Linked DNA regions of Homo sapiens. The protein of the gene in region 1 interacts with the protein of each later gene in a pairwise test. Each region holds a gene or a part of one and is shown on either strand. Other genes may lie near its edges.

What was found.
Region 2: the proteins of SIX4 (region 1) and EYA2 interact in a two-hybrid assay, tested with the Homo sapiens proteins (one study listed by BioGRID).

The regions. Positions count from the first base shown.
Region 1 is NC_000014.9:60,715,543-60,732,224, forward strand, and holds the start of SIX4 (homeobox protein SIX4), read right to left. Parts: upstream 8,810-16,682; 5' UTR 8,717-8,809; coding exon of another isoform or gene 8,714-8,716; 5' UTR 8,533-8,713; coding exon 7,670-8,532; intron 5,603-7,669; coding exon of another isoform or gene 5,581-5,602; exon of another isoform or gene 5,566-5,580; intron 4,904-5,565; coding exon 4,218-4,903; intron 1-4,217. UniProt on the Homo sapiens protein: Transcriptional regulator which can act as both a transcriptional repressor and activator by binding a DNA sequence on these target genes and is involved in processes like cell differentiation, cell migration and cell survival.
Region 2 is NC_000020.11:47,067,925-47,083,798, reverse strand, and holds part of EYA2 (protein phosphatase EYA2), read right to left. Parts: intron 11,615-15,874; coding exon 11,547-11,614; intron 9,642-11,546; coding exon 9,464-9,641; intron 1-9,463. UniProt on the Homo sapiens protein: Functions both as protein phosphatase and as transcriptional coactivator for SIX1, and probably also for SIX2, SIX4 and SIX5.

The DNA.
Region 1 (16,682 bases):
TAACATAAAGGATCAGAGCTAATGCTTCTCTAAAAGGTTTGTATCTTTTGAGACTCTTACTATAATGGTCTATAGAGACCAGAAGTAGAAAAAAAAATGTTAAGTAGAAAGCTGAGATGTTCAAATCAGATCACTTAGACAATGTACACGAATTAGACCCCCCACTACCATCAAATAACACTCTTTTGTTCCTGATTCCTTACATAGGCATGAGATGATGGCAATTAGATAATCTAGGACCTCAAATATGGTCACTGAAGGAAAGGTAGATTTGGGGGAACTTTTGTGATAGGTGGGCTGTTTATCCTCATCTTGAATTAGATGTTCAGTCAACTCTTTTTTTTTTTTTTGAGACAGTCTTGCTCTGTTGCCCAGGCTGGAGTGCAGTGGCACGATTTCTGCTCACTGCAACCTCTACCTCCCAGGTGATTCTCCTGCCTCAACCTCTGAGTAGCTGGGATTACAGATGCATGTCACCATGCCTGTCTAATTTTTGTAGTTTTAGTAGAGATGGGGTTTCACCATGTTGGCCAGGCTGTTCTCGAACTCCTGAGCTCAAGTGATCTGCCAGCCTCGGTCTCCCAAAGTGCTGGGATTATGTGAACGTGGCTCACTGCAGCCTCGATCTCCTGGGCCCAAGCAATCCCTCCCACTTCAGCCTCCCAAGTAGCTGGGACTACAGGTACGTACTACTATGCCCAGCTAATTTAAAAAAAAAATTTTTTTTTGAGACAGAGTCTCGCTCTGTCACCCAGGCTGGAGTGCGGTGGTGCAATCTTGGCTCACTGCAAACTCCGCTTCCTGGGTTCAAGCAATTCTCCTGACTCAGCCTCCTGAGTAGCTGGGATTACAGGCACGCACCACCATGCCTGGCTAATTTTTGTATTTTTAGTAGAGACAGGGTTTCACCATGTTGGTCAGGCTGGTCTCAAACTCTTGACCTTGTGATCCACCCGCCTCGGCCTCCCAAAGTGCTGGGATTACAGGCATGAGCCACCGCGCCTGGCCAATTTTTTAAAAATTTTTGTAGAGATGAGGTCTCACTATGTTGCCCAGGCTGGTCTGGAATTCCTGGGCTCAAGTGATCCTCCTGCCTCAGCCTCCCAAAGTGTTAGAATTACAGGCGTGACACCACATCTGGCCTCAGTAAACTACTTTTTTGAGAGAGCAGCCCAATGTTAAAGGTAATTAATTCACCTAAAACATTTTCCTTCCTGAAGTATTAGAATATTGTGATTATATTATCACCTCTATTGATAAATAAGTGCCACAGGGCTGTTTATGTCTTCCAAATATTTTTAATGCAAAGGAATGTCTTCAAGTAAAAAGAAAACACTGCATATGAACCCTTTTAAAACATTTAACTAGAAAGTTTAATCACAGAAATACCAGTGTTAAGAAAAACATTTCTAAGTATGTTTCAGTTATTCTCTTACATTTCTGTTTCAGACCACACATATGAAAAAACTGCTTTTATTTGAAAACACTGCCTTCAACTTAAGTATGCTTTAAAACTCTTATTTTTATTTATTTATTTATTTATTTTTGAGATAAGGGGTTTTGCTCTTGTTGCCCAGGCTGGAGTGCAATGGCGTGATCTCGGCTCACTGCAACCTCCACCTCCTGGGTTCAAGCGATTCTCCTGCCTCAGCCTCCTAAGTAGCTGGGATTACAGGCATGTGCCACCATGCCAGCCTAATTTTTGTTTTTTTTAGTAGAGACGGGGTTTCAATATGTTAGGCTGGTCTGGAACTCCTGACCTCAGGTGATCCACCCGCCTTAGCCTCCTAAAGTGCTGGGATTAACAGGCGTAAGCCACTGTGCCCGGCGTCTTTAAAATTCTTGTAGGCAGCTGATTTGTGGCAAAAAAACATCTCAAATAGATGTTTAGTTTATTGTGTGTATGTTTATGAAATTGTTTGCCAATGTATGCATGAACAAAATGATTAGTTATCTTTTTATAGAGCCATAAATAGCATAATACATGCAACATTTTCCCCAACTGCTACTGAATATAAATACTTCTGAATTTGTAGAAATTATAACATATATAAAAGAGAATTTGATCTAAAATTTGATTTTTGAGCATAACTACAACTGAAGTAAAAATTGAACAACAATTTTAAGATAAAAAAATCCAACTGAAAAACCATATAGATACAAAGCATTACTTTGTAATGATAAGAAAAAAATCAGGCCAGGCGCTGTGGCTCATGCCTGTAATCCCAGCACTTTGGGAGGCTGAGGTGAGCAGATCACAGGAGTTCAAGACCAGCCTGGCCAACATAGCAAAACCCTCTCTCTGTTAAACACACGAAGATTAGCCGGTCATGGTGATGCACGCCTGTAGTCCCAGCTACTAGGGAGGCTGAGGCAGGATAATCACTTGAACACGGGAGGCAGAGGCTGCAGTGAGCCGAGATCGCGCCACTGTACTCCAGCCTGGGTGACAAAATGAGTCTCCGCCTAAAAATAATAATAATAATAATAATAATAATCTTAGTTGCTCAGACTGTAAAGTGAGTAAAAGATGTAGATATTCTACTTTTCCACATAAATCCCAACTATAGAAAGATAAGTCTATCTTGTCAAGACATTTTAAAGAATGGCTCAGTATCTGTTTGTGAGAAAAAACTGAATCCCCAAAATGTTTTATTGAGAACTGCAATACCTAACTACCATAGAAATGTTGCTTACTGGATTAAACTTAACTATCTGGTTAAACTTAGACTGTCTGTTCAACTCACCCAGACAGTCTAAGATTTGATCTTACTTATTTTAACTGAAAATGCTATTCTTATTCCTATTAAATGTCCCATTTAAAAACTCAGCTATTAGTTCATAATAATTTTCTATGGCAGTGCTCCTCTAGATTACACAATTAAAAGTATTTCTACTTTTCTCCTCCCCCAACATACATAACTCATTCTTTCTGCTCAAATTTGTTGCCTTTAAAATGTGACCTGTTTGGAAATTTTCCAAATGAGAGAAAAGGGGTTAGATCCACATTAAATTATTATCAAACTAAGCACTTTGGCTTTCCCTGTGGTTTTCATATTTTTGCCCTATGTTAGATAGTAACTTAACTCTTTCCATAACTTGGAACAATGATGAACTGAATAGTATGCTGCAGGAATGTCTTGTTTTAGTACCATTTTGCCTAAAGAAATGCAAATGTACAGAATGAAATTTAGAACAATTTTTCCATTAATTCCTTCAATAAGCTGACATAGACCATAGTTGTGGTAACAAGAGAGTTGTGCATAAATTGATTTTTTTGGGGGGGTGGTAAAACCATCTTATAGGAAGCAGACCTTTAAAGCCAACAATTACTACTTTGGTTTTGTAAAAATCTGGATTTTCAGATTTGTCTACAAGAAGGCAAACGTGCATTAAGATCTACCCTTCCTGAATTCAAGGGATTATGCAAACTCCACTGCCAAATTCTAACCATTTCTATTTCTTTAAAGAGAAAATGACATAGAGGATCCAGGCTTGCTTAAAGTCAGTGAAGAACTAATATATCAGCCTCAGTTTTCCTGAATTTCATTTAAGTGCTTTCTCTGGAAGATTGCTGTTAGTAAAGCCACAAACATATAAAATAAGGCTTACTATTATCTTCACAAATAAACCCACACATTTAGGGGGTTAGTATATATGCTGAGCGATAGAAATCCAATGGCATATTCCTCTGATTTTCTTTTAGGTCTGTTAGTCTTCATTATAGGAGGAAACAGGATTCAAACATAATTGATCCGGTCTTTTTAGCTTGTTCTTCTAAAACATTTTTTGGTCAAATAAATAATGCTTAGGTAAAGTGTATGCATTCTTACCAACTGCTAGACTAATTTTGTGTTCTTAGCAATTTTATTAATTTTTAATATTAAAATGCCAAGCAGTGAGTTATTTTGTAAGCACTGATTGACTTATCATATTTCTGTAATTGTAGAACTGGCAGGACTTGCTATGAACTGTATTTTTCCATTCAGTTGTTAGTAAAATAAAAGCCCATCCTCATGATGCAAGGGAATAAAGCAACCTGGATATGACATGGGTATTGTGAAAGAGGAGAATCACATCAAGGCTACTCTACAGCTTCGGCAGCTAATAAGGTACCTGAACAGAAACATCAATCTATAGCTATCACCAAATGCGTCACTTACAGCAGCTGATGAACACATTTGCTGGTGCATTAAGGTACCAAATGAGATTGTTACCTTGTGAAGCTGCCACTGACACAGGGGGCAGCTGCAGTGGAGAGAATCCAATGCTCCCATTAAGGAACTGGCTGTTTGCTCCGGAATTGGGGATCTGGACAATGCCATACTGGTTAATTTGCACTGGTGTAGTAAAAGTCACTACAGACCCTCCATCTTGGGAAGCCACTGTTTGAATGCCTTCTCTTTTCACCTCAGTGCTGGGTATCAGGCCTGGGAATGAGACAGGGACACTGGGGCTGTAGGACGTGGTGGTTGCTGAGTTAGCAGAACTCTGGAGGACTTTGAATTCCTTCACGTCCTGGGAAGTAGACCCCAGTATGTCAGTCATGGATATACCATTGCTCACAATGTTTGATGACATTTTTGGTGGGTTCAATGCCACTGCCTGTGTATTTCCCACATTTAATCCATTAAGGATAACTCCACTGGGTCCCTGAATAAAAGAATTTCCATTAAGGAAGACAGGTGAAGTACTTGCAGGTACCAAGCTTCCATTCAACAGAACTCCAGAAGAGCTTAATGATATCTTAGCATTTCCAATTTGTTGCATATATACTGGCTCCATATGACTGGAAAGGCTGAGGTTGGTGATGCCATCAGATGAACTGGAGAGTGGGTGAGGAGATAAATCCTCATGTCCCTTGCTGGATTCATCTTCAGTGCTGGGGTTGCCATCTGACTCACTGTATGGAGGGGGAAATCAAAATGTTCAGAAGGTCAGGGGGATGACATTCTACACAGTGCCACTTGTTTGGAAAACCAGCTTCTAAATCCATTAAAGGCAGTATTTAAGGAAAGCACAGCAGGATATCTGCTAGTCCTATTTAAACTAAGAGGCCTTTCAGCAGATTCCGACCAGCCAGAGAATCTGGGAAGATAAACTCTCAGATCCCAATCATTTAAAATAACAATAAATTCAGGGAAAGTCCAGACATCTGCAAGATGTAAATTCAGCATTACAGGAGAAGAACATATTTGATTTTACAGTGTAGAAGTGCTATTCCTTACTGTTACATATGCTGCTACTGACACCATAGAAAAAAACACCTTAAATGAGGTGGTCGGTCTTTCCTGTTTAGGAACTCCTTCCCCTCCCCTCAAACCAATTCAGATTAGTGTTATCTTGGAGGTAAATGAAGCTGCCAAAGGAGCAGGAGGTAGGAAGTGCTCAGCTTTTCTTTTTTGGTCAGTTAGTTAACAAGAGATCGTTTTCTCACCTGCTCCCAAACTTCTACTCCACCAGACTGACAACTCTCTCATTCAACAAAGTGGCTGTCCTTGTTGTAGGAAAAGGCACTTTCAACCCAAGAACAGTTATGTGCAGTCGCCTTTGAATCCAAAGGAAGCCAAAGGGGCCTATTTAACAAACACCATCCAGTGCCCTGGTGAGGTGGGAGGGAAAGGGTGTCACTCAGAGGCCTTCTAACTATTAGACCTCTTCCCCAACGTCCTTGGTCCCTCTGTTCCAGGCAGGACCCTGTTCCTCAGCTCTCTGACTTGGGAGAAATACCAAATCGGGGTTGGGGGGTGGGTAGTGATGGGGTTTCCCATTTGGTCTGAGGCTGGGAGGGAGAGCAAACGAGAGCAGAACAGAGGCGTTTTGGAAGCGCAGCAGGACTTGGCCCAGCAGAGGATCCGACATCCCCGCAGTGCCCCGCGGTCGGTTCGCTTTCATGCCGAGGGGAGGGGATTACCCGGGCTTTGGGCTGCGGGGCCAGGAGCGCAGAAAGCGCTTTGATTTACAAGCTGAGGCTGAGCCGCCGTCGCCGTCTGCGAGGGTGACTCACCGGGGGTGCGGGTGGGAGGTAGATCCGGAGAGGGGCCTAAACCAGGCAACTGGGCCGGCGGCGGGGTGGGTGTGGAGTTTATGGGGTGGGGCGGGGGGGACGAAGAAGCCAGCAGTGGAGCGTGGGGGAGTCCCAGGGAGCGTGCCCGGCTCGCGAGCGGAGGCGGCGGAGCAGCTGGCCTGCTCGCGGTGCCCCCTTGCCACCCTCTGCCCCGGCCCTGCGGATTCCGTTGGTTTCCGAGCGCGGGATCCGCGGCCTCTAGTGGGCGCAGGGCAGGTGGCTCGGCGTAACCAAAGCGCCTTCTCTGGACCTCTCCGCATATCTGCGGAAGGCGCACGCACATCCCGGTGCACCTTTTGTTTTGGTTACCGCGAGGGCCGGATAGGGCACCAAGCCTCCCTCCCAGCCTTGGGCGAGGAACGCCGGAGCCCGAGCCGTCGGACCCCCACAGGGGCCCAGAAGCGGCAAGGGCGGGCTGAGACCGGCTCTGGAATGCGCTGGTGATCACCTTCACCTGGCGCAGGCGGGCTGGATCCCCGGCTCCCAGTTTGCTTCCCCGAGAAGAACCTTCGAGCTGCTTTTGGATTCTTTCTCTCCTATCCCCGCGGGGCTGGAGACACCAGGTCTTTAGGCGACCTTCTCCTTACTTTGTTTCGTCCAACAAAACACACAGACGCACACACCAAGTGTCTGACTCGGGAGGACGCACAAAAGAGGTGGAAAATCCGGTATTTTTTTTACCAGAGGGGGAAAGCAGTCTGCCAGGCAAAAAGCTCAAACCCAGTGGGGTGGGAGCGCCCCCACTCCTTTGCTGCCGCCCGCCGTAAGCCGGCCTGCCCCCCACCCATAACTACCGTACCAGGAGGGAGCCAAGCAGCGTTCGGGGGCCGAGGGAGGAAGCAGCCCTTCAGCCCTGCTACCCCGGCTGCGCTGAAACCCGATCCTAAGGAGTTCAGAATCAGGTTTCAAAACATGACAGAGCCGAGCTGCACCAGCACCCCACGTTGCCGCGGCCGCTAAGGGAACCATAGGGGCAGGGTGAATGATTAACTCTGTCATATGAAACCTCGACGTTCCGAGACCCCTTCTGCGCCGCCAGTCCCACAACACTCTCTTCCCTTCACCAGAGCAGCCACCGCGACCTCCAGCGCAGGCCCGGGGGGCGGCTGAACCCTGGGGATCCGGGAGCGTGCGCGCGCGCCAGGCCCGGTGTGACCTCGCGGAGGTGCAGACCCCGGCCGGCGCCGGCAGTCTCTGCGGGCCTCGGGCGGCAGGGAGAGCTACGGTGCCGGTGTCCACATTTGCTTCGTTAGCCCCTCCAGAAACGGGGAGAGGGTGGCAACTTCAAAGCCAGCGGGATGGGGGTGGGAAGCTGGGCAGCAGTGACCAGCCGAGGTGGGGGCGGGGACTGAGACCTAGGCGGGCGACCAGAAACTTCTGGGGGGAGAGGGGGAGGGTAAGGAGGGAGGTTCCCCCGCCCCCCGCCTCCGCCGCCCCCTACCTCTGCCGGCCGGGGAGCGAGGTAGGGGGCGGGGAGAGGTGGGCAGCCGGACCAGGCTGGTGGGGAAGGTAAGCGCCATGTTTGCGAGCACTTGGAGGAAAAGAAAGCCGGGAAGGGGGTGGGGGAGAGGAAGGGGGAGGAGGAGGAAAGTTGGCGCTCACCTTTTGGACTGGGTCTCGGAGGGGTTCCTGTCGCGCTGCCGGCGGTTCTTGAACCAGTTGCTGACCTGGGTGAGGGAGAGGCCGGTGATCTTGGCCAGGTGCCGCTTCTCGGCGGGCGAAGGGTAGCGATTCTGCTTGTAGAGCTCCTTGAGCGCGTTGCGCGACTTCTCCTTGAAACAATACACCGTCTCCTCGCCGTCCCAGATGGTGCGGGGCAGGGGGAATTTCCTGCGCAGCCGGTACTTGTCTACGGCTCCCAGCGGCCGGCCGCGGGCTCGCTCGGCCTCGGTGTAGCGCGCCTTGTACCAGAGCTGCTGCAGCAGCGGGTGGTTGGCCGACTCGAAGCTGTGGCTCTCGAGGATGCTGTAGAGCTCGGGGTAGATGCCCTGGTGGAAGGCCACGAGCGCCCGCGCCTTCAGCAGGCTCTCGTTGCCACGTAGCAGGTCGCTCTGGGGCAGGGACCACAGGAACCGGGCCAGGCGGTCCAGGTTGCCCCCCTGCTGCAGTGCCTCGCACACGCAGGCGACGTGGTCGGGCGAGAAGGCCAGCGGGGTCTGCGCGGCGGCGGCGGCGGCGTGGTGGTGCCTGCCCAGAAGTTCCGAGTGGAGTTGTACCTGATCCGCCGCCGCTCCGGCCGCCGCCGCCGCCACTGCCCCTTCCTCTCCGCTCACCCTGGCGGCAGCGGTCGCGGCGTCCCCCGGCTCCAGGGGAAAAGGGGCTGGAGCCGGGGGGCTCAGCCCTACCGCCGCGCCCCCCGCCACTTCTCGGTGCGCCTCCTGCCCTTCCGAGGCGCTTTCCATCCCATTCTCTTGCTTGATGTCCGCCGCACTTGCGATCTGCCCGGTGGGGGAGGAAGAGGACATTTTTTGTTGTTTATTTTCCTCCCTCCCTCACTCCCTCGCACTCTTTTCCTCTTTCTTTCCTCCTCTCTTACTCCTCCTCCTTCGTCTCCCTCCCTCCTCTCCCCCTCCGGAAAGCCCACTCCCTCCCTCCTGGTTTCGGCTGTATCTGGCCGATCAGGTTTCCCCCCGGCCACGCAGTCACCATTAAGATAGCTGTTAGAGCAAAGTAGTGTAAACGGATAGCTGCTTTCTGCCGTTCCCCCAACGTGACTCCTCCGGTTGCTGCATACTATATGGCAGTGGCGGCCGGGCCGGCCCGGCCTAGCCACCTCATTGGCTATTTCGCATTCAGAGGGAGGAGGAGACACAGTTTCTATCCCTGTCGATCACCCGCCTCCCACTCCACCCCTCGCCTTTCCCTCCCCTCCTGACCCCCAGGCACCTATACCTGAAGGAAAACACCGACATTCTTTCCAAGCCACGCTCCTGGGCGGGAAATTACCTAATGTGGCCTGAAAACTGGACAACTCTTTCAAACAGAGGCCCTACAATTCCAGAGGGAATATTAATTGTGTGGCCTTAAGGTCTGGATGGTTAAATTTTTAACAAAGAGACCACCCTCAGCATCTAGATGACAAAACTTCAGAGGACAATTCAGAAGCCCCCCAGTATGTCCCTGTTCCCCATTCTCCCTCTTTTTGGATGTCTTTATCAAGGATTTTGTATTCAAAACGGTCAAAAATAAAATGACACTAGGAAATGTTCTAAGGGGCAAGCATTTACAGTAAATTAAAATTCCAAAGAGGGAAAAATGCTTGAAAACCTTATAATTAGCAGCATAAATAGCACACTGAGAAGACAAAAACAAGAAGCCTTCAAAAAATGTACTTAACCTTAAGCCACGTGGAGGGCTGGCAACCCAACTGAGTTGAACATGGTATAATTAAACATGTAGAATATTAAACCATAAGTTTATCCTGGATGAGTCGTGTGGAAGAGATCTAAGCTTTAAATATGGAAATTTAAGTTTTCTACATGAACTTTTTAATGTAAGTATATGAGTATTTCTTTTTTAACGATGATAGGCTAGAAACACTGAATGTGCGGGTGTCATCCAGATCAGTGCAGGATCAGAAGCCCTTTTCCACAGCATAGACAGATTGCCCTCTGGTTTGATGCTGAAGTGGGGGTAGAGTCTTTTGTTGTTTGCAGTTGTGTCTCTTTCCTTTGTAATTTGCACAAGATCTTAATTCCAAAAGGGATGATCCATTTCTGCTTCTTTGATTACTGTAGGTCAGTTGGGTTTGCCTGCTGCTGCTCTTTCTCAAAATTCAACTTTTTTTCCCCCCGAGATGGAGTCTCGCTCTGTCGCCCAGGCTGGAGTGCAGTGGTGTGATCTCGGCTCACTGCAAGCTCCGCCTCCTGGGTTCACGCCATTCTCCTGCCTCAGCCTCCCGAGTAGCTGGGACTACAGGCGCCCGCCACCACGCCCAGCTAATTTTTTTTTTTTTTTTTTTTTTGTATTTTTTAGTAGAGACGGGGTTTCACCACGTTAGCCAGGATGGTCTCGATCTCCTGACCTCGTGATCCGTCCGCCTCGGCCTCTCAAAATTCAACATTTTAATGACATCATCCTAACCTTTGCTTCAGGGTGGCCTTGTATTGTGTATGCTTCCCAGCTACTCATAGCTGCCTACTTCAGCATATTACAAAGCAGCTGTCTAGGTCACCTGCCGTCATGATAAACTTGGTGAGATTTTCTTTTTTTTTGTAGACAGGCTTTATTTTATTGCTGGTCAATCAAGATGTCATTTGATGTAGGATTTAACTTGTTTTTGCATTACCCTAATGTGTTGACATCGCTGGTAGATTTAAAATTTATAACAACAGAAAAGGCCATATTATTTATTTGCTTATTTATTTATTTATTTATTTATTTATTTTTTGAGATGGAGTCTCACTCTGTTGCCCGGGCTGGAGTGCAGTGGCGTGATCTTGGCTCACTGCAACCTCTGCCTCCCGGGTTCAAGCGATTCTCCTGCCTCAGTCTCCTGAGTAGCTGGCACTACAGGCGCGTGCCACCATGCCCGACTAATTTTTTATATTTTTAGTAGAGATGGGGTTTCATCGTGTTAGCCAGGATGGTCTCGATCTCCTGACCTCGTGATCCGCCCGCCTCGATCTCCCAAAGTGCTGGGATTACAGGCGTGAGCCACCGCGCCCGGCCAAGACCATGTGTTTCTACTCCACTGGAAACATCCAGTTAGGTACCAAGCTTCAGGACAATAACTGAGATTCAGAACTTCCTTGAATTTTTGTTTGCTTGTTTGTTTTTGTTTGAGACAGGGTCTCTCTCTGATGCCCAGGCTGAAGTGCAGTGGCATGATCTCAGCTCACTGCAACCTGCCCCTCCTGGTTTCAAGTGATTCTCCTGCATCAGCCTCCCGAGTAGCTGGGATTACAGGCACCTGCCAACCACACCCAGCTAATTTTTGTATTTTTAGTAGAGATGGGGTTTCACCATGTTGGCCAGGCTGGTCTTAAATTCCTGACCTCAAGTGATCCGCCCACCTCAGTCTCCCAGAGTGCTGGGATTAGAGGCATGAGCCACCACACCTGGCCAAATTTTTTTAAAAATATATTTTTTATTTGGAATGCTTTTCATTTACAGAAAAGTTACCAAAATAGTAGAGTTTCCACTTACCTTTCACCTAGTTCCCTTTAATTTTAACATCTTACATGATAATGCTATATTTATCTAAACAAATTAACATTGGCGCATTTCTATTAACTAACCTCTAGACTTTATTTGGATTTCACCAGTTTTTTTTTTCATTAATGTCTGTTTTCTGTCCTATGATCCAATCCAGGAGACCATGTTGCATTTAATTCCTTGAAATTTTAAAGCACATTTCTCAGAACAAAGTAGACAGGATATGGTGTGGTTTAGTGGAAAGGATGTGGATTTGAGGATCAGATAGCTAGACACAGGTTTAATCCTAGCTCTTCCATTTATTAGCTACTTGACTATAAAAAGTCGACTAAGTTGTTGTGAGGATTAAATGAGATAAGATGTGCCAGAAAGCACCTGGTGAGTAATTAATCCTTGGTAAATGTTTGTTATCTTCTTCCTGATATTGCAAAGTAGGAGACTTTTTAGTTGTATATACCTAGTGAAAATTCCTTTGGCTATGTTTGGAGCCATCCCAAACCAGGTCACAGGAGTCTGCTTCAGAATTATTATCAATCAAATATAGTGCATTGACTTGGAAAACCACTTCTGCATGTCTTCTGTATATTTGCCTCTAGAGCATCAAGTTCAACAGATTATATAGAAGCAACAGTGGCTTTTTATGACATCTGTAGCCTGTAGCTAGCTACATTGCTATTCCATACCTCCAGTAGGACCAGCTGTGAAATCCACACCAAGATCCAGGTTCCTTTAGCCAGTTGACACTCAGAGCTCATTCTGCCAGCAATTCAAAGTAGACTCAAACATGGTCAGTTACATTGGAATGGAATACTAGACCTGAAGGTGTGTAGAGTTTATCCCAGAGCACTGGTTTTGCCAAATGTGTTGTAAAATTGATGAATACTTGCTTCTACTTCCTATGTGTGCCATGCTGTGAACATTGAGTCTGTTGTATTGATATGCTGTCTAAAACTGTGTTGCTCATGGAATACTACACAGCTATAAAAAAGAATGAAATCATGTCCTTTGTAGTAACATGGTTGCTGCTGGAAGCTGTTGTCTTAAGTGAATTAATCCAAAACAGAAAACCAAATACTGCATGTTATTTATAAGTGGGAGCTAGGCTGGGTGCAGTGGCTCATACCTGTAATCCCAGTGCTTTGGGAGGCCAATCTGGGAGGATAGCTTGAGGCTAGGAGTTTGTGAACAGCCTGGGCAACATAATGAGACCCTGTCTCTACAAAAAATAAAAAAAAAATAGCTGGGCATGGTGGTGAGCGTCTGTAGTTACAGCTACCTGGCAGACTGAAGTGGAAGGATTGCTTGTGTCCATGAGTTTGAGGCTGCTGCCTGGATGATAGGGGGGAAAAAAAAGTAGAAGCTAAACATTGGGTACATGTGGACATAAAAATGGGAACAACAGACACTGGGGACTCCAAAAGGGGTGGGAGGGACGAAGGGGATCAAGGGTTGAAAAACTACCTGTTGAGTACTATGTTCACTATTTGGTTGAAGGGTTCAATAGAAGCTTAAACCTCAACATCGTGCAATATATCCATGTAAGAAACCTACACGTGTACCCCCTGAATCTAAAATAAAAATAAAAATCAATCTGTGTTGTGATTTGGGAAAACAGGATTGAGGCTGGGATTGTGTGAGAGTGAAGAGCAAAAAACCAAGCTGCTTGTTCTGTGTCTTTTCCTTCCAGCTTGAAGACAGTGATGAGTGTAGGTAAAAATCTTTGGCCATTTTAGTATATTGAAGAAAATCAGGTGCAGCACAAAATTTTACACTTTGCTTGAATATATTTGATGGTTTTGCCATCAAGAATGGAGATTTCTTCATTCATCAGTGAGTTTGGGCTGGGTGTGGTGGCTCACACCTGTAATCCCAGCACTTTGGGAGGCCCAGGTGAATGGATCGCTTGAGTCCAGGAGTTTGAGACCATCCTGGGTTAACATGGTGAAACCCCATCTCTACAAAAAATACAAAAATTAGCTGGGTGTGGTGACACTCACCTGCAGTCCTAGCTACTTGTGAGGCTGAAGTGGGAGGATCACCTGAGCCAGGGCTCCAGTAAGCCATGATCATGCCACTGAGCTCTAGCCTGGACACAGAGCGAGACCCTGTCCCAGGGGGAAAAAAAGCATATGTACTGGTACTATTAGTGTATTAGAGAAATTAGGTTCTAAAGTTATCTCCCATCCATTATTATTTAGTGATGGTTGATGACATGTAGTGAATATTTCTGAAGGATCATTTATTTGCCAAACACTTACTGAGCCTTAAGTTCAAGGCACTGGGTTTGGTACCAAAGGATAGAAAGACGAATATATTGAGGTCTCTGTTCCTGAGGAGCTTAAAATTTTGTGGGGGAGATAAGACAAAGATAAGTAACAATATAGGATATGGGATTGGTGAGGATAAAGAGTCTGATTTTGAGAGGAGGAGGGCAATTGGGAGTGAATTTTTAGCTAGGTCTTTAAGGACAATAATTTTGAGAGGATAAGGATAAAGGTTAATGAGAAGCAGAGGAAACAGAATGAGAAAAGCATGGAGCTGTGAAGGTGTGTGGTATATTTTTGAAATAGTAATCCAGTGTGTCTGGAGTGTGGGTTGTATGTAAATGTGGGTTATTAGCTTAAAAGGCATGTTGGAGACAAATTATGGACTTTGAATGAAATGCTGTTTGCTGTGGGATATACAGTGGTGATGTCTGTGTGTCATATCATGGCCACCATTGATGACCCAAGATGGGCACTTGCCCCAAAACACTCAGAATCTTTTGCTGGGAGTTTTCAAACTTGTACTGGAAGAATTAAGGAAGACTAGTAGAGGGAATCTTAGAAATAATGCTTGGGAATTCTCAGTGATCAAGGTATCTGCATGTTTAGGACACTGATAAGCAGTAGGTGAGATGAAGAGTGACCTAGTGAGTCACATGGGCTACAGTGGAGAGAAGACATCCTGGCAGAGACTGAGTGCCAGATTCTAGTCATCTCCCAAGCATAGCAGCACTCTTACTTTTTTATGGTGATATGAATTTCCCCAGGATCCAGAGACCCCACTTGAACTGGCCTAGGGAAGAATTGTTCAAATTGGCAGTAAGGGAAAAGCAGCAGAGCCTCTTTGATGAAAATGTAAAATGTGAGCTTGGAGCTACTGGGAGCCATGTTTCTAAGGTTTTGGAGAAAGCTCCTTTGAAAACTAACCTGATGAGAAAGACAGAGGCAAGTGAAATGGGATAGCAGGTCTTCAAGTCCAGCCAGCTGCACTCCTGCTCTTCACATTGTTTGATATTGTGATCCAATAAATTCAACTTTTTGCCTAGGCCAGTTCAATCGGAGTTTCTGGTTCCTGAGGAAGTTCACAGCCAATAAAGGTGTCATGCCAACCCCTGTGCCAGGGGGCAGGCATTGTGATTAACAGACCTAGTAGAACCACATACATGTGGGGTGAGGGACTAAGGACTATTTCCCAAAAGAAGTGGAGTAGAGATGCTGTCCTTAGTAAAGGGAGAAAACAGTAAGTATCCTCTTCCGATGAGGAAAGCCCAACCTGGGTCCATAGCCTTGGGGCTGGAAAAGAAGGTCTGCATTTGAGAAACACTGTCCCATTCCCATAGAATCTACTGTTAACTGAGGTAGGAATGCTAGAGGATGAGCAGACTTGGGAAGAGAAATAAGGGCCTCAATTTTTCCACTTTTGGGATTCAGCTGTCTTCAGAAATGTATAGACCAATGGAACAGAACAGAGGCCTCAGAAATAACACCACACATCTACAACCATCTGATCTTTGACAAACCTGACAAAAACAAGAAATCGGGAAAGGATTCCCTATTTAATAAATGCTACTGGGAAAACTGGCTAGCCATATGTAGAAAGCTGAAACTTGATCCCTTCCTTACACCTTATACAAAAATTAATTCAAGATGGATTAAAGACTTAAATGTTAGACCTAAAATTATAAAAATCCTAGAAGAAAACCTAGGCAATATCATTCAGGACATAGGCATGGGCAAGGACTTCATGACTAAAACACCAAAAGCAATGGCAACAAAAGCTAAAATAGACAAATGGGATCTAATGAAACTAAAGAGCTTCTGCACAGCAAAAGAAACTACCATCAGAATGAACAGGCAACCTACAGACTGGGAGAAAATTTTTGGAATCTACTCATCTGACAAAGGGCTAATATCCAGAATCTACAAAGAACTTAAACAAATTTACAAGAAAAAAGTCAAACAACCCCATCAAAAAGTGGACAAAGGATATGAACAGACACTTTTCCAAAGAAGAGATTTATGCAGCCAACAGACACATGAAACAATGCTCATCATCACTGGTCATCAGAGAAATGCAAATCAAAACCACAATGAGATACCACCTCACACCAGTTAGAATGGTGATCATTAAAAAGTCAGGAAACAACAGGTGCTGGAGAGGATATGGAGAAATAGGAATGCTTTTACACTGTTCGTGGGAGTGTAAATAGTTCAGCCATTGTGGAAGACAGTGGGGCGATTCCTCAAAGATCTAGAACTAGAAATACCATTTGACCCAGCCATCCCATTACTGGGCATATACCCAAAGGATTATAAATCATGCTACTATAAAGACACATGCACATGTATGTTTATTGCAGCACTATTCACAATAGCAAAGACTTGGAACCAACCCAAATGTCCATCAGTGATAGACTGGATTAAGAAAATGTGGCACATATACACCATGGAATACTACGCAGCCATGAAAAAGGATGAGTTCATGTTCTTTGTAGCGACATGGATGAAACTGGAAACCATCATTCTGAGCAAACTATCACAAGGACAGAAAACCAAACACCGCATGTTCTCACTCATAGGTAGGAGTTGAACACTGAGAACACTTGGACATAGGGCAGGGAACATTACACACCGGGGCCTGACGTGGGGTGGGGAGATGGGGGAGGGATAGCATTAGGAGAAATACCTAATGTAAATGACGAGTTAATGGGTGCAGCAAACCAACACAACACATGTATACATATGTAACAAACCTGCATGTTGTGCACATGTACCCTATAACTTAAAGTATAATAATAAAAAACCTAAAAAAAATAAAGTAGTAAAACAAAAACAATACATAGGAAGCGTAAGTTTCATATGTATAGCATATAGAAAAATGCATAATTTTGAAGTTCAGAAAATGAAAAAAATTTGTTCTTAGTCAACAAAAATTCATAAAGAAAAAGAATTTGTAAACATATGAAGGTTCACCTTGGATGAACACGTTGGAAGGAACTTAAGCATGATTGAATTTTTGTGTTGAGACGAATGTGTTTTTAACCTTTCAAAATTATATGTTATGGTTGATAAATTATTTTCTCCTAAAAAAAAAAAGAAATGTAGGAAACTTGAGTTTGGTGGTTTTCTACATAGGCTGAGGTTCCATTTGAATTAGGAACCTGGTGCCGTCAGTGCTTTCCTCCTCAAAGCTC
Region 2 (15,874 bases), on another chromosome or scaffold:
AGTCCAGTTTATATTCTTTTTTTCTTTTTGGATCATATTTTTGGTGTTACATATGAGAAATCTTTGCCTAAATCAAAGTCACAAAACTGTCTCCTATGTTTTCTTGTAGAAGATTACAGTTTTATATTTAAGTCTATGATCTATTTTGCATTTTTTTTGTGTGTCATGTGAGGTATGAAGTATAGATAATCAGTTGTTCCACGATTTTTTTTTTTTTTTTTGAGATGGACTCTTGCTCTGTCACCCAGGCTGCAGTGTGGTGGCATGATCTTGGCTCACTGCAACCTCCACCTCCCTGGTTCAAGGGATTCTCCTGCCTCAGCCTCCCAAGTAGCTGGGATTACAGGTGTGCGCCACCAAGCCTGGCTATTTTTTTGTATATTTAGTAGAGACGGGGTTTCATCATGTTGGCCAGGCTGATCTTGAACTCCTGACCTCAGGTGATCCACCTGCCTTGGACTCCCAAAATGCTGGGATTACAGGCGTGAGCCACTGTGCTCGGCTGTTCCAGCATCTTTTGTTGAAAAGACTGTCCTTTCTCCATTGAATTGTCTTTTGTCAAAAATCAGGTGACCATATACATGTGGGTTAATTCATTTATTTACTGTGGAGACAGGGTCTTACTCTGTCATCCAGGCTGGAGTACAGTGGTATGATCATAGCTCACTGTATCCTCAAACCCCTGGCTGAAGCAATTCTCCCACCTCACCTTCCTGAGCAGATGGGACTGCAGGCACAACCCACTGCCTGGGTTATTTTTATTTTTTTGCAGAGACAGGGTCTTGCTATGTTGCTCAGGCTGGTCTCAGACTTCTGGCCTCAAGTGATCCTCCCTCTTCGGCCTCCCAAAGTGCTGGGATTACAAGCACGAGCCACGGCACCCAACCTATTTCTGAACTCTCAATTCTGTTCCATTGATTTATTTGTCTATTTTTATGCCAGTGCTGCATTGTCTTAAGTACTGTGGCTTTAAAATGGATTTTAAAATCAGGTAGTCTTAGCCCTCTAACTTTGTTCTTCTCTACAAAAGTCATTGTGGCCCTTCTTGGTCCTCTGCATTTCCATTTAAAGTTCAGAAACAGCTTGACAGTTTCTTAAAAAAAGCCTGAGATGTTGATAGAGATTGTATTAATCTTATAGCTCAATTTGGGAAGAGCTGGCATTTTAACAATATTAAGTCTTCTGATTCACGAACCAGGTATATATCTCCATTTATTAATGCCTTCTTTAACTTCTCTCAGCAGTTTTATAGGTTTTAGTGTAAAGTCATGCATATCTTTTGCCAAATTTAACCTTGAGTATTTCACATCTTTGATACTATTTCAAATGGCATTTAAAATATTCTATTTCCTGTTGTTTGTTGATTTTTAGATATTCACCTAGTACCCTGCAACACTGCTAAAGTTACTTTTTAGATCTAGTAGCTTTTTCATAGATTCCATCAGATTTTCTACATAGGTGACCAGGTCATTTTATCTCTTTACTTCATGAAGTTTTACTTCTTCTTTTCTTATTTTTAAAAAATTTTAAATTAAGTTAAATAATCATATCTTTGGATGAAAATTATTATATTTAACTGTCTGGGTTAAAGTGAGTTCTTAAATATATTTTCATTAATCATTATTTATATTTGCATGTTACTTAATAATTGGCAGGGTTGGCTGGGCACAGTGGCTCACGCTTGTAATCCCAGCACTTTGCGAGGCTGAGGCAGGTGGATCACCTGAGGTCAGGAGTTTGAGACCAGCCTGACCAACGTGGTAAAACCCCGTCTCTACTAAAAACACAAAAATTAGCCGGGCATGGTAGTGGGCGCCTGTAATCCCAACTACTCAGGAAGCTGAGGGAGGAGAATCACTTGAACCTGGGAGGCAGAGGTTGCAGTGAGCCAAGGTCACACCATCGCACTCCAGCCTGGGCGACAGATCGAGACTCTGTCTCAAAATAATAATAATAGGCAATGCACATTTTTTCTTTCTCTCTCTCTCTCTTTTTTTCTTTCTTCTTTTTTTTTTTTTTTGAGACAAGGTCTCGCTTTGTCACCCAGGCTGGAGTGCAGTGGTAAAATCTTGGCTCGCTGCAACCTCTGCCTCCCAGGTTCAAGTGATTCTCCTGCCTCAGCCTCCTGAGTAGCTGGGATCACAGGCGTGTGGCACCACGCCTGGCTAATTTTTGTATTTTTAGTAGAGACGGGGTTTCGCCATGTTGGCCAGGCTGGTCTTGAACTCCTGACCTCAGGTGCTCCACGTGCCTGTGCCTCCCAAAATGCTGGGATTACAGGCATGAGCCACCATGCCCGGCCTTTTTATTTCAATTTTCACAGCAACCCTGTAGATGATGATGATGATTTGTTAACTGGACAAATAAAAATTGTGTATATTTATGATGTACAACATATTTTGATATATGTATATATTGGGGATGGCTAAATCAAGCTAATTAACATTCACATATTTTTTATTTTTTTTTTACTAAAAACACTTAAAATCTACTCTCTCAGCAAGTTTCAAGTATATAACACTGATAGGGTTTGGCTCTGTGTCCCCATCAAATCTCATCTTGAATTGTAACTCCCACAATTCCCACATGTCATGAGAGGAACCCAGTGGGAGGTGACTGAATTATGATAAAGACATACCTGAGACTGAACAATTTACAAAGGAAAGAGCATTAATGGAGAACTCAGTTCCATGTGGCTGGGGAAGCCTCACAATCATGGCCGAAGACAAGGAGGAGCAAGTCCCCATCTCTACAAAAAATTTAAAAATTAGCTGCGCATGGTGGCACACACCTGTAGTCCCAACTACTTGAGAGGCTGAGGGAGGATTGCTTGAGCCCAGGAGTTCGAGGTTACGGAGAACTATGATCGTACCACTGCACTTCAGCCTGGGTGACAGAGTAAGACCTTGTCTCTTTAAGAAGGAGGGTCTTTCCTGCACTGTTCTTGTGATAGTGAACGAGTCTCGCAAGATCTGATGGTTTTAAGAAAGTGGCAGTTCGCCTGCACGAGTTCTCTCTTTGCCTGCTGCCATCCACGTAAGATGTGACTTGCTTCTCCTTTTTTTCAGCCATGATTGTGAGGCTTCCCCAGCCACATGGAACTGAGTTCTCCATTAAACCTCTTTCCTTTGTAAACTGCTCAGTTTCAGGTGTGTCTTTATCAGTAGCATGAAGATAGACTAATACAAATACCTTATTTATTAACTATAGTCACCATATTGTACAATAGTTCTTCTGAACTTATTCCTATTAACTGAAATTTTGTATCCTTTGACCAATCTTCCCTCCCCTCCACTCCCCTTTACTCCCTCCCTCCCTCATTTCCCTCCCTCCCTCCCTCATTTCCCTCCCTCCCCCCTCCCTCATTTCCCTCCCTCCCTTCCTTCACCTGATACCTGTGGTAATTGTGTCTTCTTTTCTAATTCAGGTATTTCGTGCTGTAAGTTTCCCTTTAAGTACTGCTTTAATGACATTCCATAAATTTTGATATATTTGTTTTCATTTTCATTCAGTTCCAAGTGCTTTTTAATTTCCCATTGATTTCTTCTTTGACCCATGGGTCACTGAAATGTATATTATTGAGATTCTGAAGATTTGGGAACTTCCCAAAAATCTTTCTGAAATTTATTTCTAATTTAATTCCACTGCTGTCAGAGAACATGCTTTGTATGCCTTGATTCTTTTAAAGGTACTGAAACTTGTTTTATGGCCCAGAAGATATTAATATTTATCTTGGTAAATGTCCCATGTGCACTTGAAAAGAATGTGTATTTGCTGCTGTTGGGTGGAGTGTTCTACAGATTGCCTGTTACATACAGTCTTTTCCTTTCACTCCAGATCTTGTTTTCCTCTCCAGAGAAAATGACTATTAACAGTTCTTATTGCATCCTTCTAGAAATTCCTTATGGAATATGAGTAAATATGGGTATTAAGCTACACTTAAACTTTTAAAAAACTCAGGCTCACATTACCCATGTAATTCTGCCTCCTGCTTTTTTTTTTTAACCTATCACAATAGCTCAAAGAGAAACCCATAGTAGCACAAATATATCTAACTTATTCTTTTTAACAGCTGTATAGTATGCTACTGGTGGATGCACCATGATTGATTTAACCTGTTTCCTGTTAATGGCATGGTATCCAGGTTGTTTCCAGCCTTTTGCTATGATGCTGCTGCAATAAATATTCTTTTTTAAAAAAATAAATATTCTTGATGTGACTGACTTAAGGACTTCGAGATGGGGAGATGATCCTGGATTCTCTGAGTGGGCCCAGTGGAATCACAACAGTCCTTATAAGGGGTCGGGGGCAGGAGTTAGAGAAGGAGATGAGACAATGTAAGTAGAAACTGGAATGATGCAGGGTCATGAGCCAAGGAAGGCAGGTGGCCTCTGCAGGTAGAAGGGCAAGGAAGTGATTCTCCTCTGGAGCCTCCAATACTATAACCCTGCTGACCCCTCAATTTTAGTTCAGTGAGAGCCATGTTGCATTTCTTACCTCCAGAACTGTAAAATATCACTGTGTTGTTTTAAGACACAAAGGTCATAATAATTTGTTACAGCAGCAAGAAGAAACTGATACAGTCTCCAAACATTTCTGATTGTACCATACTCATCAGCAAAAAATTTTCTACTGCACAGATCCATCATATATATTGTAGAGCAAACATAAACAGAAATTGAAAAGGATAAAGGGGATACAAGAAGTTTCAAAATGCATTTTTGTATGTATTTATGTACTAACAGTACAAAACCCTTGTGGTTATCACTAAAATTATTTGCATAATAGTATTAATAAATTTTTAATCAGTGAAAAAAATAAGTATTCTTTTTACTTAAGTGTTTGTACCTAGGTCAAAGTTTATCTTTCGGATAAATTCTTAGATGTCGAATAGTTGAGTTAAAAGGTCTATGCATTTTAAATTTTGTTAGATGTTGCCAAATTACACGGAAGAGCCTTCCCAATTTCTTCTTGAGAGATTAAAAAAATTCTTCTTCTCTTGGCAAAGGAAGTTGATCTTAGAAGTTAAAAAATCCTTCAACTTCTTTTTAGATAATTTGTATCATATTTAAAAATGTAAAAAGAAAAAAATCCTTAAGTAACCAATGATTTGGTTTTTCTCTTAAGTAACATGAGATGTTCAGATTCTGCCCTCTATATCAGCAAATTGCCCTGTAATCATCTGCAAATTGTTGGCACTTCACACACACATTAATGCATGTCAATGCAGAGTGTCCTGTGGCGAGGATGGGGTGCATGGGGGATGTGAGTGGTGAGAGCACCAAAATACTATATCCAGGCAGTGCACACAGTGAGTGTGATCTGTCTGTCAGTAAACCTCTAGAGCCTCTGGAGTTTGGAACCAACCACTCAAGGATATCCTGGATAATTTCAAAAGTAGAGTTTTTATGGGAAATTTAAAAAGAGTGCATGAATGTGTGTGTGTGTGTGTGTGTGTGTGTGTGTGCGCGCGCGCGCGCACGTGCACATGTGCACACACATATGCTTAAATTCCTTTACAGTGAACACTAGGAAAAAGAGGCAGGAGACCTCAGCTACAGCTGACCATTATTTACGTCATTAGATTTTATGTCAGCTTGTTAGACACACAGTAAAAACCATCTCAACCACTTACTGTTGAACCTTTGATCAAGGGATAAAGGAAGAACAGAGGGAAACAAGACAGAAAAATTTCAAAGACACAATGAGCCTTTATATTCACTCCTGATGGGAATGAAGAGAACCTTCCCACAAAACTCAAATTCTGGGGAGGTAAGTTTTTCGTTTGCCATTCAGTTCACCATTGAATTATAGACGGATAGTGGCATCTACTCGATGGTTTCCTGCTTATAGTTCCTCTCTGCCCTAATTTCTCATCAATGTTTTGTTTTTATCTCCTTTGTTGAAATGAGATCGGAAGAACCACATTCTGAAAATCAGGATGGCTAAAGATAATTCAAGATGATGACAGAGAAAAACTTTGTTAAACTTCAAACTCTTCAAAGAAAGTTATTAAATAGGTACTATGCATCATTAAATATTCTGGGATGAGATCACAATGACCAAAATCAATGCTCAAGCTCTAAACCTTTTAAAAAGTTGACTTTATTTAACATGCTTTGCCATATTGTCTCCATTTGTCATCAAACCAAGGATAACTCACTCATTCCCAGTGATGGAAAATTTAAGGGCTAAAATCAATAGCCACACCAAGAACCCCAGGAACAAAACAGGTGGGTCTTCCCTATTGTTCCTTTTCTAACAATCAACCAATTAATATTTGTTGATGACTGTCTCCACACCATCGTGCTAGCTTAGCTTCTGCAAAGCCCTACAGCATCAGTAGGTTTCAGAAAAGAAGACAAAGGAACGAAACTCAGTGATATCTACTGACATTCTAACGTATTGCTGCCATGTTATTTAATGTTGATAAGCCAAAACCACCTTGTAAAAGAGAAGATGTGCATAGCAGGTCTGGGGAATGAATGAATGAATCCACAGGCTGGTGCATTAGTTGCATAGGGATGTTACATACTAAGTTCTGTGACCACAGAGGGGTCAGGACATGGACTCTGCCACATGTTGCTCATAGTGTAGGTGGCATCCATATCAAGGTTGTGGACATTTATTGTTTTTGCTCACCCATTGTCTCTTCTGTCTTCTTGTAGTTACAATGCTCTAGGTTTTTTGAGGTGATCACCTCTTCCTCACTCTCAGTCCCTGGTGGTTGAGGTGAGGCTGACCCCAACTCTAGCTCCAGCCGTAGGCATGAGCCCAAAGTCTGCTGCTTCATCCCAGCATTCCATTCCACTGACCACAGAGATTGGTTTGGGGATGAGCATGTGACCTAAGCTGGGCCAATGGGAGCTTTACTTGGGACTTTTGCAGGAATGGCTAAGAAGGAGGAACTATGTTTGCTGGGATGGATTAGCAGACAGGATTGAGCTCTGGGTAGCTGGTGGCCATCTTTGCCACCATAGGGGAGGAGCTTGCCTGAGAACGGAACGAACCCAGGAAAATTCAGAGCCAGAAGGAAGAGAGAAACTAAGTCTCAACATTGTCATTGGAACACCTGGACCTAGCTCTAAACCCCTGTACATCTAGGTTAGATATGCCTAAAAGTTCATTTGCTTTTTCTTAAACTAGTTTGAATTGGATTTTCTATGTCTTTTGAAGCCAAAAAATCTTGGCTAATCAAAAGGGTTTCCTAAAACTATTGTGCCATCAGAAACAAACATCCTTAAAGATAACCCGATTAAAAAATGGGCAAAGGACATGAACAGACACTTCTCAAAAGAAGACATACATGCAGCCAACAAGCATATGAAAAAATAATATCACTGGTCATTAGGGAAATGCAAATCAAAACCACAATGATATACCATCTCACACCAATCAGAATGGCCATTATTAAAAAGTCAAAAAATAACAGATGCTGGCAAGGTTACAGAGAAAAGGGAATGCTTATACATTGTTCATGGGAATGTAAATTAGTTCAGCCACTGTGGAAAGCGGCCTGAAGATTTCTCAAGGAACTTAAAATGAAACTACCATTTGGATATATACCAGCAATCCCATTACTGGGTATATATCCAAAGGAATATAAATTTTTCTACCATAAAGACACATGCATGTGTATGTTCATTGCAGCACTATTCACAATAGCAAAGACAAAGAATCAACCTAGATGCCCATCAATGGCAAACTGGATAAAGAAAATGTGGTATATATACACCATGGAATACTACGCAGCCATAAAAAATAAGATCATGTCCTTTGAACCAACATGGATAGGGCTAGAGGCCATTATCCTAAGTGAATTAACACAGGAACAGAAAACCAAATACCACATGTTCTTACTTATAAGTGGGAGCTAAACATTGAGTACACATGGATACAAAGAAGGGAACAATAGACCCAAGGACCTACTTGAGGGTAGAGGATGGAAGGAAGGTGAGGACTGGAAAACTACCTAGTGGGTATTGTGCTGATTATCTGGGTGACAAAATTATCTGTACACTAAACCTCCACGACATGCAATTTACCCATGTAACAAACCTGCATGTGTACCCCAAACCTAAAATACAAGTTGAAAGAAAAAAAAAATGAACATGCTTAAGGATGTTTTGAAGGATTGTATAATTCTTGAGGACCCTGAGTCGCTATACTTGAACCCCTCTTAGACAAAGAATCAACATTTGAAAGCCTCTGCCCTTCTGTTCTCAAACGGATTTTAGATAACATATTCCTGGCCGTACACAGCCAGGCTGTGTACACAGTTCCTGGCTGTGTATGGCCAGTGCATAGCAGGAGTGCTGGTTATGGGGGCCAACAAACTGGGATTGGGATCCTAGCCCCACCAATCACTAGCAAGCTCCTTATCACTCTCATCTTCATTGTTCTTATCTAGAAAAAGGGTGGGGATAATATAAACCTGTTTTTGTGAGGATTATGCCTCTCCTTATCACAGTTTGTAATGAGATATTTGTATGATTATTTGATTCCTGTCTGCAAAGCTTAACTCTACACTGCACTTTATTTCCCAAACTAAAGGGAGGGCCTGGAATGCAGTGGGAGCTTACCAAATATTTGTTGAATAAATATATAAGTAAATGATTAGAGAAGACCACACAGGTATGTGCTCAGCACGAAACAGATGGGTATTTTATTTATTTATTTAATTTTTTGAGATGGAGTTTCACTCTTGTTGCCCAGGCTGGAGCGCAATGGCGCGATCTCGGCTCACTGCAACCTCCGCCTCCCAGGTTCAAGCGATTCTCCTACCTCAGCCGCCCTAGTAGCTGGGATTACAGGTGCCTGCCATGACTCAGGCTAATTTCTGTATTTTTAGTAGAGATGGGGTTTCATCATGTTGGCCAGGCTGGTCTCGAACTCCTGACCTCAGGTGATCCACCCGCCTCAGCCTCCAAAAGTGCTGGGATTACAGGTGTGAGCCACCGTGCCCAGCTGGTAATATTATAAATACTACCAGGGTTCATCAACTCCAAGGCCTACATGGGCCAGGCAGTAATGAACATGGGGTAAGCTAGCTAGATGTGGAATTGGGTGTGTCCTTTCTAAAAAGAGCAGACACACTTAGTTTTAACCAAGTGGTGTTCCTTGGGAATGTGGCTACTATGGCCAGATCTTCTTTCAAAAGAAGCCAGAAAATAGAATTTTTAGGTATTTATAAAATTTTCTGACTTTTAAACGTAAATGCAATTAAACACATGCACAAACAGGCCAACAAAACATGTCTGAGAGATGGATTTAGCCCTTGGGAGCCTGTTTGTGACAACTGGGACCCATATCCAGGTCCCTCCTTCAGAGAAGCTCTCAGGCCACATCCATGAATGACCCTTGGGTAACCTGTTTGTTACAATTGGGACCCATGTGCGGGTCCCTCCTTCATAGAAGCTCTCAGACCACAGCCATGAATGGCCCCACCAGTGACTGCACCTACCAGCAAGTGACTCGGAACTCTGGTTGGGGACGTTGTGAGATGCCTCCTGGAGGACGTAGGTGGACGTGGAGAGGGGCGAAGGGCAGATGCTGCTGGCCGGGACGTAGGGAGGGTTGTAGGATGAGCCGTAATACTGGGGGTACTGGCTCTGGGGGAAGCCGGGGTAGGAAGGATAGTCCTGGGAAGAGAAAAACAAACCAAGGACATATGTGAGGAAGCCTTTCTGGGCTCGGGCCGTTGGTCAGCCTGGCCACTCTGTCTCACCATTAGAATAAAAGCTCTCTGTGGGCAGAAACTGTCTTCATTTTGGTTTCCCAGAAGCAGACCCCGGGGCAAGGATTCAAGTGCAAGGAGGCTGTTTGGAAGGTGAAGGAGACACCAGCAGGGGATCGGGGAAGTGAGAGAGATGCGGGAGAGCAGCCTGCATAGGTGCTTCTGTGGTAGTGACCAGAGATGAGCCCTATGAGGAAAAGCTGAGATGGTCTAAAATCCACATCTCAGAACTGCCTCTCCCACGGGTCAAGGGAGTGGAGGGGTTTATACATCAACTTGTTGGTCTTTGAGAGCTGCACCCAGGGGGCTTTAATTCCCAGGCACTTCCTGCCTGCCCCGTGCACTGGTTCTAGAAAAGCCCCTTGGGCCCAGGCATGCAGATGCTGGCACCTGGAGGTCCACAGGCCACCCTAAGGGATATAGACGTGGCCCTGATGGCACCTGTCCTGGTCACTATTGTATCCTCTGCACCTGAAACAGTGCCTGGTATATGCAGTAACTCAACAAATACTGGTTAAATTAATAAACAAATGCATTAACAATTAAGACCACACTGCACCCCCCCCCCACGACACACACACAAACCTAGAAGACCGCACACACACCCACACGACACACAAACCCAGGAGACTAGGTGACATTTTATGTTCATGGGGAGGAGGTGCAAATACAGCAGCACCTACACAGCATTAGGGGTCCAGAATATTCTATGAGGGAGTCATGGAGATCAATTCAATAGCTGCCAATCACCTTTGATCAAGCTTTGTTTAAGCAGACCAGCGATCCCAATTCTCCAACAGTCATTGTTTCAAATATCCTGCCGCACTATCACCAAACCAGTGCTTCTCAACCCTGCACGGAACTCATGGAACGTTCTGCTTCCTGGGCCCCACCCCAGAGCTGGGAGTCAGAGTTCCTGGGGGTGGGGGTTGCGGGGGTGGTCAGTGTTTTTGAAAAACACAGATTTAATGGTGAAATGGAGGGTTAAGAACCACATCTTAAAAAGTACTGTTTTATTTATAAGTATTTTATCTATGTACATAGTACATTAGAAATAATGCAAAAATACATGAAACAATTTTTACATTTGCTAAGTTTTAAATTATTTAGATTCTCACTGGAAAAGAAATTGCGTATTCCTCAGATCTAAATATGTTAAATATTCCTAAAGCCCATCTACCCCAGGGTGGTTCTGTTTTAAATGGTAGCCTGAAAGCAGGTGAACCTTTTGTTTTGAAATAATTTTAGGTGTACAGGGAAGGTGTACACACAGCAGAGTTACTGCACACTTTGAGCAGATGCGAACTCTTAATTCACTTTGTAAGTGACACCAAGAGAATCAAAGTACTAGCCAACATTTACCTATATAGAGTTGACTTTGCTCTATTTAACAAGTATTTATAAAGCCCCCACTGTGTGCTGGGCTCTCACCACTGGGGATGCAGAGGTGAGCAAGATATACGGTCCCCCTTGAGAAGCCCATGGTCTGGTGAAAGAACCCACCCATTTGTATTGATATATATCAGATTCAACAGTCAATGGGTGTCCTGAGTCCAGGTCAAGATGGAACATACTTGTAGATCTCCATGACATCTCAGGAATCTTCTAACAATTCCTACGTCTCCGCCTGTATACTGTGTCCTTCCAGCAGCCTTTTGCACAATCTAGCCCCTGTAGTCTCCAAACCCAGGGACTAAGAGGCAGGTTCCCAATGGGGATTGTGTGTGTCGTGGGCTCTCTGGGTGCCCTGATGTAAGGGGAATATTTCCAGAAAGAACTGAGGAAAGAATCGGGAGGGAGCCATGTCTACCTGGTGCACACTCCCGAAACCGGCTGCGTTGCCCAGTCCATTTCCTCCTTGATAGAACCCTGTTGTGCCTGTGGGAAGGAGGAACAGGGGTACAGGTTAGGGTTCTTGTCTTTTTTTCTCTTTAAAGCAGTTGTTAGCATTTCATGAACCTCCCTCCATGTGGCTTCAAGGGTGACAGCTGGGCAGAAGCTCTGGTTCCTAGTGGTAATGCCTCACACCAGCGTTCCCAAAGCAACCCAGGTGAGACTTGTTGACACTAATCCTCTGGTGACGCCTACCACCAGCATCACCACGGCCTCCTGGGTGCTTCCAAGTGCTTGCTGATGCGGCCGTGGCTATGGCTCACGTGACCCCTAAGTCTCTGGATCTTCCTCTGTCCGGATGGCATGTTGGCGGCCCAGACCCAAGAGCCAGGTTAGGTTTCTTACAGTCGGAGAGGAACATGCAGGAGGAGGGTACCATGGCCAGGTGGGGTCTTTGAGGTCTGACAGGCTGGGATGGAACCTGTGACTTTGGTTACCAAATTTCTCTGAACCTCAATTTCCTGGATAGATGAAGAAAATAAACGGTGTCCTTTTCAAAGGGCTATGGTGAGAAATAAGTGAGATAGTGCCCACTACCCAGATCCTGGTCCTTAATAATTATGTTTTTAAAAAATTTGAGGCCAGGTGTGGTGGCCTCAGATTTTTCTGTAATTCCAATGCTTTGGGAGGCTGAGGTGGGAGGATCACTTGAGCCCCGGAGTTTGGTCATTTAAGTGTTTCACTTTTTAAAGAAATGGCCAAACTGTTTTCCAAAGTGGCTGTGCCATTTGCATTCTTACTAGGAATTCACGAGAGTTCTAGATTCTCCAGCACTTGGTAGTTTCAGTCTTCTTGATTATGGCCACTCTAGTAGTCTGGTCAACATAGTGAGATGTTGTCTCTACAAAAAAATTAAAACATTGGCTGGGCACAGTGGCTCACACCTGTAATCCCAGCACTTTGGGAGGCTGAGACGGGAGGATCAGGAGGTCAGGAGCTCGAGACCAACCTGGCCAACATGGTGAAATTCTGTCTCTACTAAAAATACAAAAATTAGCCAGGCGTGGTGGTGTGTGCCTGTAATCCCAGCTACTAGGGAGGCTGAGGCAGGAGAACTGCTTGAACTCGGGAGGCGGAGGTAGCAGCGAGCCAAGACTGTGCCACTGCACTCCAGCTCTGGGTGACAGAGCAAGACTCCATCTTGGAAAAAAAAAAATTCCAGGTGTGGTGGCGCATGCCTATAGTTCCAGCTACTTGGGAGGCTGAGGCGGGGGGATTGCTTGAACCTAGGAGTTTGAGGCTGCAGTAAACTACAATCTCACCACTGCACTCCAGCCTGCGCAACACGGCAAGACCCTGTCTCTAGAAAACAGTAAATAAAATAAAAAATAAAAATTATTTATTTAAAAAATTGTGGTATATATACAACATAAAATTTACCCTCTTAACCATTTTAAAGTGTACAGTTCAGTGGCATTAACTACATCCACATTATTGGGTACTCATCACCATCATTCATCTTTAGAACATTTTTCTTCTTGTAAAATTGGAACTATGTACCCATTAAACAACAATGCACAATGGCATAGATGTACAACATCCAATATTGGGCTATTATGGATAATGCAATATAAGCATTCACATACAAGTCTTTGTATGGATATATATTTTCATTTCTCTTGGGTAAATCCCTAAGAGTAGAATTACAGAGTTGTGTGGTAAGCATATGTTTACCTTTTAAAAGAAATGGCCAAACTGTTTTCCTAAGTGGCTGTGCCATTTTACATTCTGACTGGTAATGCACGAGAGTTCTCGATTCTCCAGCACTTGGTCATTTCAGTCTTCTTGATTACAGCCACTCTACGAAGTATGTGGTTGTATCTCACTGTGGTTTTAAGTAGCATTTCTCCAATGACTAATGGTGTTGGGCATTTTTCATGTGCTTTTTAGCCATTCACATATCTTCTTTGATGAAATATCTACTCAAATCTTTTTCCCATCAAACCCTAGTCAAATCTTTTTAAAAAATTAGGTTTGGCCTCTTATTACTGTTATAAGAGTTCTTTATATATCTTGGACACAAGTCCTTGATCAGATACATGATTTGTGAATATTATCTCCCAGTTTGTGGCTTGTCTTTTTCTTAATGGTGTCTTTTGAAGAGCAAAAGATTGTAGGTTGTTGATTTTTTTCTTTGATGCATTTTGCTTTTGTTGCCTAATTCAAGGTCACAAAGAACTGCTCTTGTGTTTTCTTCTAGAAATTTCACAGTATTCTTGTATTTAGGTCTATGATCCAATTTAAGTTAATCTTTGTATACAGTGTGGATTAAGGACTTAAATTCATCTTTTCATATATATATATGTGCATATATATGTATGTATATGTGTGTATATATACATATACACACACACAGTTGTTCCAGGACCACTATAAAAAGTCTATCCTTTCTCCCACTGATTTTATTATTTTTTAAAATTTTTGTGGGTACACAGTAGGTGTATATATTTATGGGGTACATGAGATGTTTTGATATAAGTATGAAATATGATATAAACACATCATGGAGAAGGGGTATCCATTTCTTCCCCCACTGAATTACTTGGTACATTTGCCAAAGATAAACTGACCATAAATGAGAAGGTTTATTTCTGGACTTTATTCTGTTTCACTGATTTATCTATCCTATACCAATTCCATCCTATCCTTATTACTGAAGCTTTATGGTGATTTTTTTTAAAAAACAGAATCTCGCTCTTCTCACCCAGGCTGGAGTGCAGAGGCGCAATCTAGGCTCACTGCAATCTCCGCCTCTCAGGTTCAAGTGATTCTCCTGCCTCAGCCTCCCAAGGGATTACAGGTGCCCACCACTATGCCCAGTTAATTTTTTGTATTTTTAGTAGAGATGGGGTTTTACTATGTTGGCCAGGCTGGTCTTGAACTCCTGACCTCAGGTGATCCACCTGCCTCAGCTTCCCAAAGTGTTGGGATTACAGACGTGAGCCACTGAGCCCGGCCTATGGTGAGTTTTGAAACCAGGTAGTATAAGTTCTCCAACTTTGTTCTTTTTCAAGTTTGTTTTGGCTTTTAGTTACTTTGCATGTCAGTTTCTACTAAACACCATCTGGGATTTTGGTAGGAATTGGACTGAATCAACAGACTTCTTTTATAAGATGAGGCCAGATTAAGAAAGTTAGGGCTGGATGCTTCAGGACCCGGAAGCCTGGAGCATGGTTTGCATCTGCTGAAGGGGCATGGACTGCTGTCAGAGGTTTTAAAGCAGCAACCGCACAACTGCAGGCACATCTCTAAACATTCACACTAGTTGCTGGTTAGAAAACAAATGGCTACTCAAATGAGCGGTGACTTACATCAAACAAGAAGCTTCTAGAGCCCACACTACTTTTTATAAAGTGGCTAAAATGAACACAATGGACTCCAGGAAACTTACTTCCTGGGGTGAGGTAGGAGAAGATAAGAGGATAATAAAGGAACCACAACACCTCTAAAATTATCCAAGATGATGGATCCATCAGAACCATAGGATCTCAACCCTTGTTCTGCATCAGAATCTCCCAAAGAACTTGAAACAAAAAACAAAACAGAACAAAAAAGCAGTCTGAGGGCCCTTCCCACAGAGAGTCTGATTTGAGTTAGTCTAGAGTTGGGCCAGGCATCAGTATATGAAAACAACAACAACAACAACAAACCTTTCTGGGAGATCCTAGTACACACTGAGAATTGAGAACCAATAGTCCATGCCAAATTCTTTATGGTCCAAATGGGGAGACTGAGGCACAAAGAGGGAAGGCAAACAGTGCTGATCCTGTGCTTTGGTCTTGGCAGCAGAGAAGGCCTTAAGCCTGTCTCATGCTTCCCAGCTCAGGGCCTTTCCATGGCAGCACATGGCTTCTCTACACAAAGATACTGAGGCCATTAATTAGTTCATTAATTCATGCATGCATTCATTTATTCATTCCACTGAGATTATTGAGTGCTTTATGCACCAAGCACTGTATTAGGCACTTTGTATATAACTGCACTTAATCCTCACATCGATCCTGAGAGGAAGGTATATAATTGCCATTCCCATGTTCCATACAGAGAAACTGAGGCTTAGGAATGGAGTTTTTCCCAAGTCATAAAGCTAGTAGGCTGTGAAGCTAAGATTAATTCTTTTATTCATTCATTTATTAATCAAACAAAATGTGCCAGAATAAGGGAAAAAGAATAGGAATGACAGCAGATTTCTCATCAGGAACCATGGAGGCCGGAAGGAAATGGCACAACATTTTTCAAGGGCTT